Homo sapiens: one gene and its partner. The protein of the gene in region 1 purifies or fractionates together with the protein of each later gene. This does not show direct contact. Each region holds a gene or a part of one and is shown in the gene's direction. Other genes may lie near its edges. The genes, in order: SFI1 and USP9X.

The links.
Region 2: the proteins of SFI1 (region 1) and USP9X purify together in Homo sapiens (affinity purification with western blotting; one study listed by BioGRID). This does not show direct contact.

What each region holds. Positions count from the first base shown.
Region 1 is NC_000022.11:31,499,255-31,503,073, forward strand, and holds part of SFI1 (protein SFI1 homolog), read left to right. Parts: intron 1-3,819. UniProt on the Homo sapiens protein: Plays a role in the dynamic structure of centrosome-associated contractile fibers via its interaction with CETN2.
Region 2 is NC_000023.11:41,091,747-41,095,565, forward strand, and holds part of USP9X (ubiquitin carboxyl-terminal hydrolase 9X), read left to right. Parts: intron 1-3,819.

The sequences.
Region 1 (3,819 bases):
CTCCCAAAGTGCTCACCACAACCTCCGCCTCCCGGGTTCAAGTGATTCTTCTGCCTCAGCCTCCCGAGTAGCTGGGATTACAGGCATGTGTCACCACGCCTGGCTAATTTTTTGTATTTTTAGTAGAGACAGGGTTTCACTGTGTTAGCCAGGATGGTCTCCATCTCTCAGCCTCCCAAAGTGCTGGGATTACAGGTGTGAATCACCGTGCCTGGTGAAAGTGGTTTCTTGAGTTGAAATCTACACCTGGTGAAGATGCTGTGAACATTGTTGAAATGACAGCAAAGGATTTAGAGTATTACATAAACTTAGTTGACAAAGCAGTGGTAGGATTTAAGAGGATTGACTTCAATTTGAAAGATGTTCTACTGTGGGTAAAATGCTATTAAATAGCATTACATGCTATAGAGAAATCTTTGATGAAAGGAAGAGAGTCCATCGATGTGACACACATCACTATTGTCTTATTTTAAGAAATTGTCATAGCACTTTGGGAGGCTGAGGCGGGCGGATTACCTGAGGTCAGGAGTTCGAGACCAGTCTGGCCAACATGGTGAAACCCCGTCTCTACTAAAAATACAAATATTACCAGGCACGGTGGTATGCGCCTGTAGTCCCAGCTACTCCAGAGGCTGAGGCAGGAGAATCGCTTGAACCCAGGAGGCGGAGGTTGCAGTGAGCATTGCAACCACTGTGCTCCAGCCTGGGCGACAGAGTGAGACTCCATCTTAAAAAAAAAAAAAAAAAAACATTGAAAATGCCACAGTTGCCGGATGCAGTATAATCCTGCATTACAGGCTCATGCCTGTAATCCTAGCACTTTGGGTGGCTGAGGTGGGCGATCACTTGAGGTCAGTAGTTCAAGACCAGCCTGGCCAACATGGTGAAACCCTGACTCTACTAAGAATATAAAAGCCAGTTGTGGTGGCGGGCACCTGTAATCCCCACTATTTGGGAGGCTGAGGCAGGAGAATCGCTTGAACCCGGGAGCTGAGATCGCACCACAGAGTGAGACTCTGTCTCAAAAAAAAAAAAAAAAAAAGAAAAAATAAATTGCCATAGCCATTCCAACCTTCAGCAATCACTACCCTGATCAGTCAGCAGCTATTAACATGGAGGCAAGACCCTCTACTGGCAAAAATATTACAACTCACTGAAGAATCAGATAATTGTTAGCATTTTTTAGCAATAAGGTGTTTTTATTTATTTTTATTTTTATTTTTGAGACAGTTTCATCTCATCACCCACGGTGGAATGCATTGGCATGATCTTGGCTCACTGCAACCTCTGCCTCCTGGGTTCAAGCGATTCTCCTGCCTCAGCCTCCTGAGTAGCTGGAATTACAGGCACCTGCCACTACACCCAGCTAATTTTGTGTTTTTAGTAGAGACAGGGTTTTGCCATGTTGGCCAGGCTGGTCTCAAATTCCTGATCTCAGGTGATTCTCCCGCCTGGGCCTCCCAAAGTGCTGGGATTACAGGCGTGAGCCATTGTGCCTGCCCAATAAAGTGGTGTTTTTGTGTGTGTGTGTTTGTTTTGTTTTTGTTTTTTGTTTTTTTTTTTGAGTCTGAGTGTTGCTCTGTCACCCAGGCTGGAATGCAATGGCGTGATCTCGGCTTGCTACAACCTCCGTCTCCCAGGTTCAAGCAATTCTCCTGCCTCAGCCTCCTGAGTAGCTGGGATTACAGGTGCCCACCACCACCACCAGCTAATTTTTGTATTTTTAGTAGAACGGGGTTTCACCATATTGGCCAGGCTGGTCTCGAACTCCTGACCCCGTGACCCACCCACCTTGGCCTCCCAAAGTGCTGAGATTACAGGTGTGAGCCACTGTGCCCGGCCAAATATTTTTAAATTAAGGTATGTACATTAGTTTTTTAGACAATGCTATTGCACACTTAACTACAAGTGTAGACATAACTTTTTTTTTTTTTTGAGACGGAGTGTAGCTCTGTTGCCCAGGCTGGAGTGCAGTGGCGTGATCTTGGCTCACTGCAAGTTCTGCCTCCTGGGTTCACGCCATTCTCCTCCCTCAGCCTCCCGAGTAGCTGGGACTACAGGCGCCCGCCACCACGCCCGGCTAATTTTTTGTATTTTTAGTAGAGACGGGGTTTCACTGTGCTAGCCAGGATGGTCTCGATCTCCTGACCTCATGACCGCCCATCTCGGCCTCCCAAAGTGCTGGGATTACAGGCGTGAGTCACCGTGCCCAGCTGACATAACTTTTATATGAACTGGGAAATCAAAAAATTCATGTGACTGGCTTTATTTATGTGGTCTGCAGCTGAACTCTCAGTATCTCTGAGGTCTGCCTGTACTAGTCCCAGTTCCGCCACTTGTTAGCTGGGAACCTTGAGCCCTCCAGCTGTAAAATGAAGTTGATAACCACTTGCTGAGGTAGTTATATTAAAGTAGGTAGTTCATGAAAAGTGCTTAGCACTAATGCGTAGCAGAGTACCTTATCTATAGATGTTATTTTGATTATAGTCTATACATTTTTGATTGTGTGGTACTCTCAACATTTTGTTAAAACATAACATTGATAAGAAAAAATTGATTCTGGATGGGTCCACTGTCTGTCTGTAGTTGGCACATTCCTCATGCCTATGTGGGTTTTTGCCGGATGCTCTGATTTCCTCCCATGTCCCCACGATAAGCACATTAGCTTCATTGACATGTCTAAATGATCCTAGTGTCAGTGAGTGTGTGTGTGAGTGTGCAATGCCATGAATGGCTTCCTGTCCAGGGTGGCATCCCCCCTTGTGCCCTGAGCTGCCAGGATACACTCTAGCCAACCTTGACCCTGAACTGGAATAAGTGGGTAAATAATTATCTTACTTGTTCTTATGAATCTTCTGTACATATATGTATAGCTCACATTTATTTCAGTGTTTAATATTAAAAGGGTTTGGATCTTTATTTAGAAGTTTGGTGATGTTTTCTGACCAGAAATATGTTACAGGAACTTAAATCTTGTTTGTATCAACTACCTTTTATGGTAAAATTGGTCTCCTTATACATCATTTTGCTTAAAGTTGCCGTTTCCAAGAACCTATCAATGACATTAAGTGAGGACTTACTGTACTTAGTTCTAGATGAGGCTGGATGATATTCAGGTTCAATTTTTTTTTTTTTTTGAGATGGAGTTTCACGCTTGTCACCCAGGCTGGAGTGTAATGGCGTGATCTCGGCTCCTGCAGCCTCCACCTCCTGGGTTCAAGCGATTCTCCTGCCTCAGCCTCCCAAGTAGCTGGGATTACAGGCACCTGCCACCATGCCCGGCTAATTTTTGTATTTTTATTAGAGACGGGGTTTCACCATGTTGTCCAGGCTGGTCTTGAACTCCTGACCTTAGGTGATCCACCTGCCTCGGCCTCCTGAAGTCGTGGGATTACAGGCGTGAGCCACTGCGCCCGGCCAGGTTCAATTTTTTAGCAAGATTTCATCATGGGTGGTAGCACTTCATCAGTGCTTTGTTGGGTTTATTTTGGTCTCTTTTTTATTTGTTGGAGGTCTTTTCTAAATGTTTTATGATTCTCAATTGTCTGTTTATACTTAAGTGTAACTGAGAGATTATGGCCGAGCGTGGTGGGTCCCACCTGTAATCCCAGCACTTTGGGAGGCTGAGGCGGGCAGATCACTTGAGGTCAGGAATTCAAGACCAGTCTAGCTTAGCCAGGTGTGATGGTACTCAGGAGGCTGAGACAGAAGAATCGCTTGAACCCAGGAGGCAGAGTTTGCAGTGAGCCGAGATTGAGCCACTGCACTGCAGCCTGGGCAACAAAGCGAGACTCTGTCTCAAAAAAAAAAAAAAAAAAA
Region 2 (3,819 bases), on another chromosome or scaffold:
AAAGAGGTGAAAGGTGAAGTAACTTGACCAAGATAGCATGCCATAGACTACCTTCTTTATGAAGCTATATCTATATGTGTCAAATCACATTAATTATTAAATTCTCTGTAGTCACTCATAAAATTAACATTAAACTGTCTCCCTGGTAATGGATAATAAGGTCAGGGATTCTGTCCTTTACCTTTGTATATTACAGAGCACCTAGAATAATACTGTTTATAATAACCATTTGATTACCTGAATGGGAAAATCTGGGGCAGTATTTAACTTGCAGTACCTCCAACCTCTTGTACAGAATTGATTCATCTTCATTTTATGGCACCCTACAGTTTATTCTTATTAATCATGTGAGCTTTGAACACCATGTTAGTCAACCATAATCAAAGGAATTGTTTTCCTTGGGATGAGTTTGAGCTGGTGATCGTGCATATTAGATCCCATCTTCTACAGAGCCTGTGAATTGGGTGGAAAGGAAAAAGGGAGTGGCGAAGCCTCCTGTTAGTATCCTTGATGTCCATTTTATTCCTGCTGACTTTGGTGGCTATTGAGAGTTATAAGTTGAGGCTGTTGGTTACATCTCTCATTTCTAGTCTTTTCTGTTAACTGGTTACTTAGAACTCCTAAGTAAGGCCGCTCATTATTAACTTGGACCCCAGAGAGCATGGAAGTTACCGTATAGTATTGAACCCATTTCTGCCTAACAGTGTTTTCTCTCTGGTCGAGGTGTAGTGTACAAAGTTTTGGTTGCTCTGCTTGGTAACATCTCTGGAGTTCAGAGCACAGGGATCAGTAAACTTTTTCTGTAAAGGGCCACATAGTAAATACTTTGGACTTTGTGGGCTAAGAGGCAAAATTGAGGACATTGGGTAAAATTTTTATTGGTGAAATAAAAAATATAATTAAATACAGTTATGTATAACTTAGGTCTAATGAGAAAAACAATTTGGTGTGTGTGTGTGGAGGGGAGGTAATACAGTATTTTGCTTTATTGGGTAAAGTTCAGTGTTCCCTGTCATCAAATTGATTGCAGACGTTCTGTGTGAAATCCATTCTTACCTTGTGAGCTGTACAAAAACAGGAGGCTGGAATTGGTCTGTTACCATAGTTTGCCAGCCCCTAGTTAAGAGCAGTGATTTTTTTTTTTAAGAGGAGGGGTCTCGCTGTCACTCAGGCTGGATTGTGGTGACGCAATCATAGCTCATTGTAGCCTGGAATTCCTGGGTTCAAGGCATCCTCGCACCTCAGCCTGCCGAGTAAGTAGGACCACAGGCCGACATCACCTCACCTGGTTAATTTTTGTTAGAGAACAGGGGTTTGACTGTGTTTCCCAGGCTGGTCTCAAACTCCTGGCCTCAAGCAATCCTCCTGTTTTGGCCTCCCAGTGTTGCTGGGATTATAGGCCTGAGCCACTGTGCTTGACCTCCTATTTGATACACTATATGTTAACAACTCTGAACCTCCTTTCCTTAAGTCAGGTTCAAACTTCTGTACATTAGCTGATGAAAGGGATTTCTTTTTATTGCAAGGTGGTATTGCCTGAGAATAGTTTGGTTTCAGCAGCTTTGCTGTATTTGTACGGCAGTATCTTGTGTTTATGTGCAAGTTCAGATGTATTTTGCCTTTTTATAAGAATGAGCAGAAAACAAAAAAGTAAATGGCGCGATCTCGGCTCACCACAACCTCCGCCTCCTGGGTTCAAGTGATTCTCCTGCCTCGGCCTCCTGAGTAGCTGGGATTACAGGCATGCGCCACCACACCCAGCTAATTTTGTATTTTTAATAGAGTTGGGGTTTCTCCATGTTGGTCAGGCTGTCTTGAACTCCCGACCTCAGGTGATCCGCCTGCCTCGGCTTCCCAAAGTGCTGGGATTACAGGCATGAGCCATCATGCCTGGCCTACCTGGAGGTCTTAAATATCCTTGAGACAGAGGGAACTGGTTAGGGATATGAATCTTAAACCTTACTGGATTAGGTTGTGCTCATTGGTTAGGTTAGTTGGCTTTGTGCAAATAGTGAATGCAATAATTAGAATGAAATAGGAATTAAGTGAGGCAAATGTATGATGAAGTTTACATTTGAAAGGTGAGGGTATAATTAGAAATAAAAGTTTCTGTACTCTGTGAGTGGGAAAAACCCCTAAAAAGGTGACTGTCGTTTTTGAAATTTTTGACTTCTCTCACATTTTCGGGAATGTGAAAGGAGGATACTGGCTATGTACAGCATTTGTCCAGACTTTTGAAAATATAGAAAATCTCATTTACTCATTTAATTAGTGTGTATATTATCTGTTTACTGTGTCCTTTGTAGATATAATTAATTATCCAGGATTCTTAAGAGTTGACTTGGAGCATGCTGAGCTGAGGCAAGAGGGATTGTGGGGCCAGACTGAGTGTTGGAGGAGGAACCTACTGTAGTGACTACAGGTGTATTTCTTTTTTCTTTTTTTTTGAAATGGAGTTTCACTCTTGTTGCCCAGGCTACAGTACAATGGCGTGATCTCGGCTCACTGCAACCTCCGCCTCCTGGGTTCAAGTGATTCTCCAGCCTCAACCTCCTGAGTAGCTGGGATTACAGGTGGGTGCCACTATACCCGGCTAATTTTGTATTTTTAGTAGAGATGGGGTTTCACCATGTTGGCCAGGCTGGTCTCGAACTCCTGACCTCAGGTGATCCACCTGCCTCATCCTCCCAGAGTGCTGGGATTACAGGTGTGAGCCACCGTGCCTGGTGTGTTTCTTGTCTGATGTCAGTGCATGTCGTTATCTGAGCCATATCAATGTCAGCTGAGGATTGCTTTGTTATCCTCGGTGCATTATGGGAAGGAGAATCATGTCAGTGCTACCTTACTGTGATTGAATTGAATTCATTGATTTAATATAGATTCAGTTAGTACGCCTTATCCATAATATTTGGGATCAGAAGTGTTTCCGATTTTGTAATTTTTTCCCCATATTTTGGAATATTTGGAATATTACTTGCGGGTGAGTGAAAATTCAAAATCCGAAATTTGGGGCCAGGCGCGGTGGCTCACCCCTGTAATCCCAGCACTTTGGGAGGCTGAGGCGGGCAGATCACTTGAGGTCAGGAGTTCGAGACCAGCCTGGCCAACATGGTGAGACCCCCGTCTCTACTAAAAATATGAAAATTAGCCAGGCATGGTGGTGTGCACCTGTAATCCCAGCTACTCAGGAGGCTGAGGCTGGAGAATCCCTTGAACCCAGGAGGTGGAGGTTGCAGTGAGCCCAGATCGCGGTACTGCACTCCGTCTAGCCTGGGTGACAGAGCGAGACTCCGTCTCAAAAAAAAAAAAAAAAGTTCAGATTTTGGAGCATTTTGGATTCCAGATTTTTCAGATAAGGGATGCTCAACCTGTGCCATTTTAGGCACCAGAGGGTATATAAAGATGATTCTCTGCTTTCAAGGCTCTGAAGTATGGTGAACCAGACAGTTATACAGTGCAATTACAGCTGTATTAAGTGGAGGTGTGAAAAGTGTAGTAGGAGAGATGGAGAAATCATTGTTTGGCATTGGGTGAGGTCTTCAAAGATGTCCTATTTTCATGGCCCTATTAATTAGAGCAGGGACTTCCGGTCAGAGGGATCAACTTGAGATCAGGCAGGGTTTTTTAACCCTATTGACAGTTTGGGGCAGATAAGTCTTTGTTGTGAGGTGCTGTCCTACTCAGCCCTGGCTTCTACCCACAAGATGCCAGTGGTATAGCCCCTACCCCACTCATATGTCTTCAGACATTGCCAGTTGTGCCCTGGGGGCAAAATTGAGAACCATTATTTGAAATGGAGCAATGCAAGTGTGAAAGTAT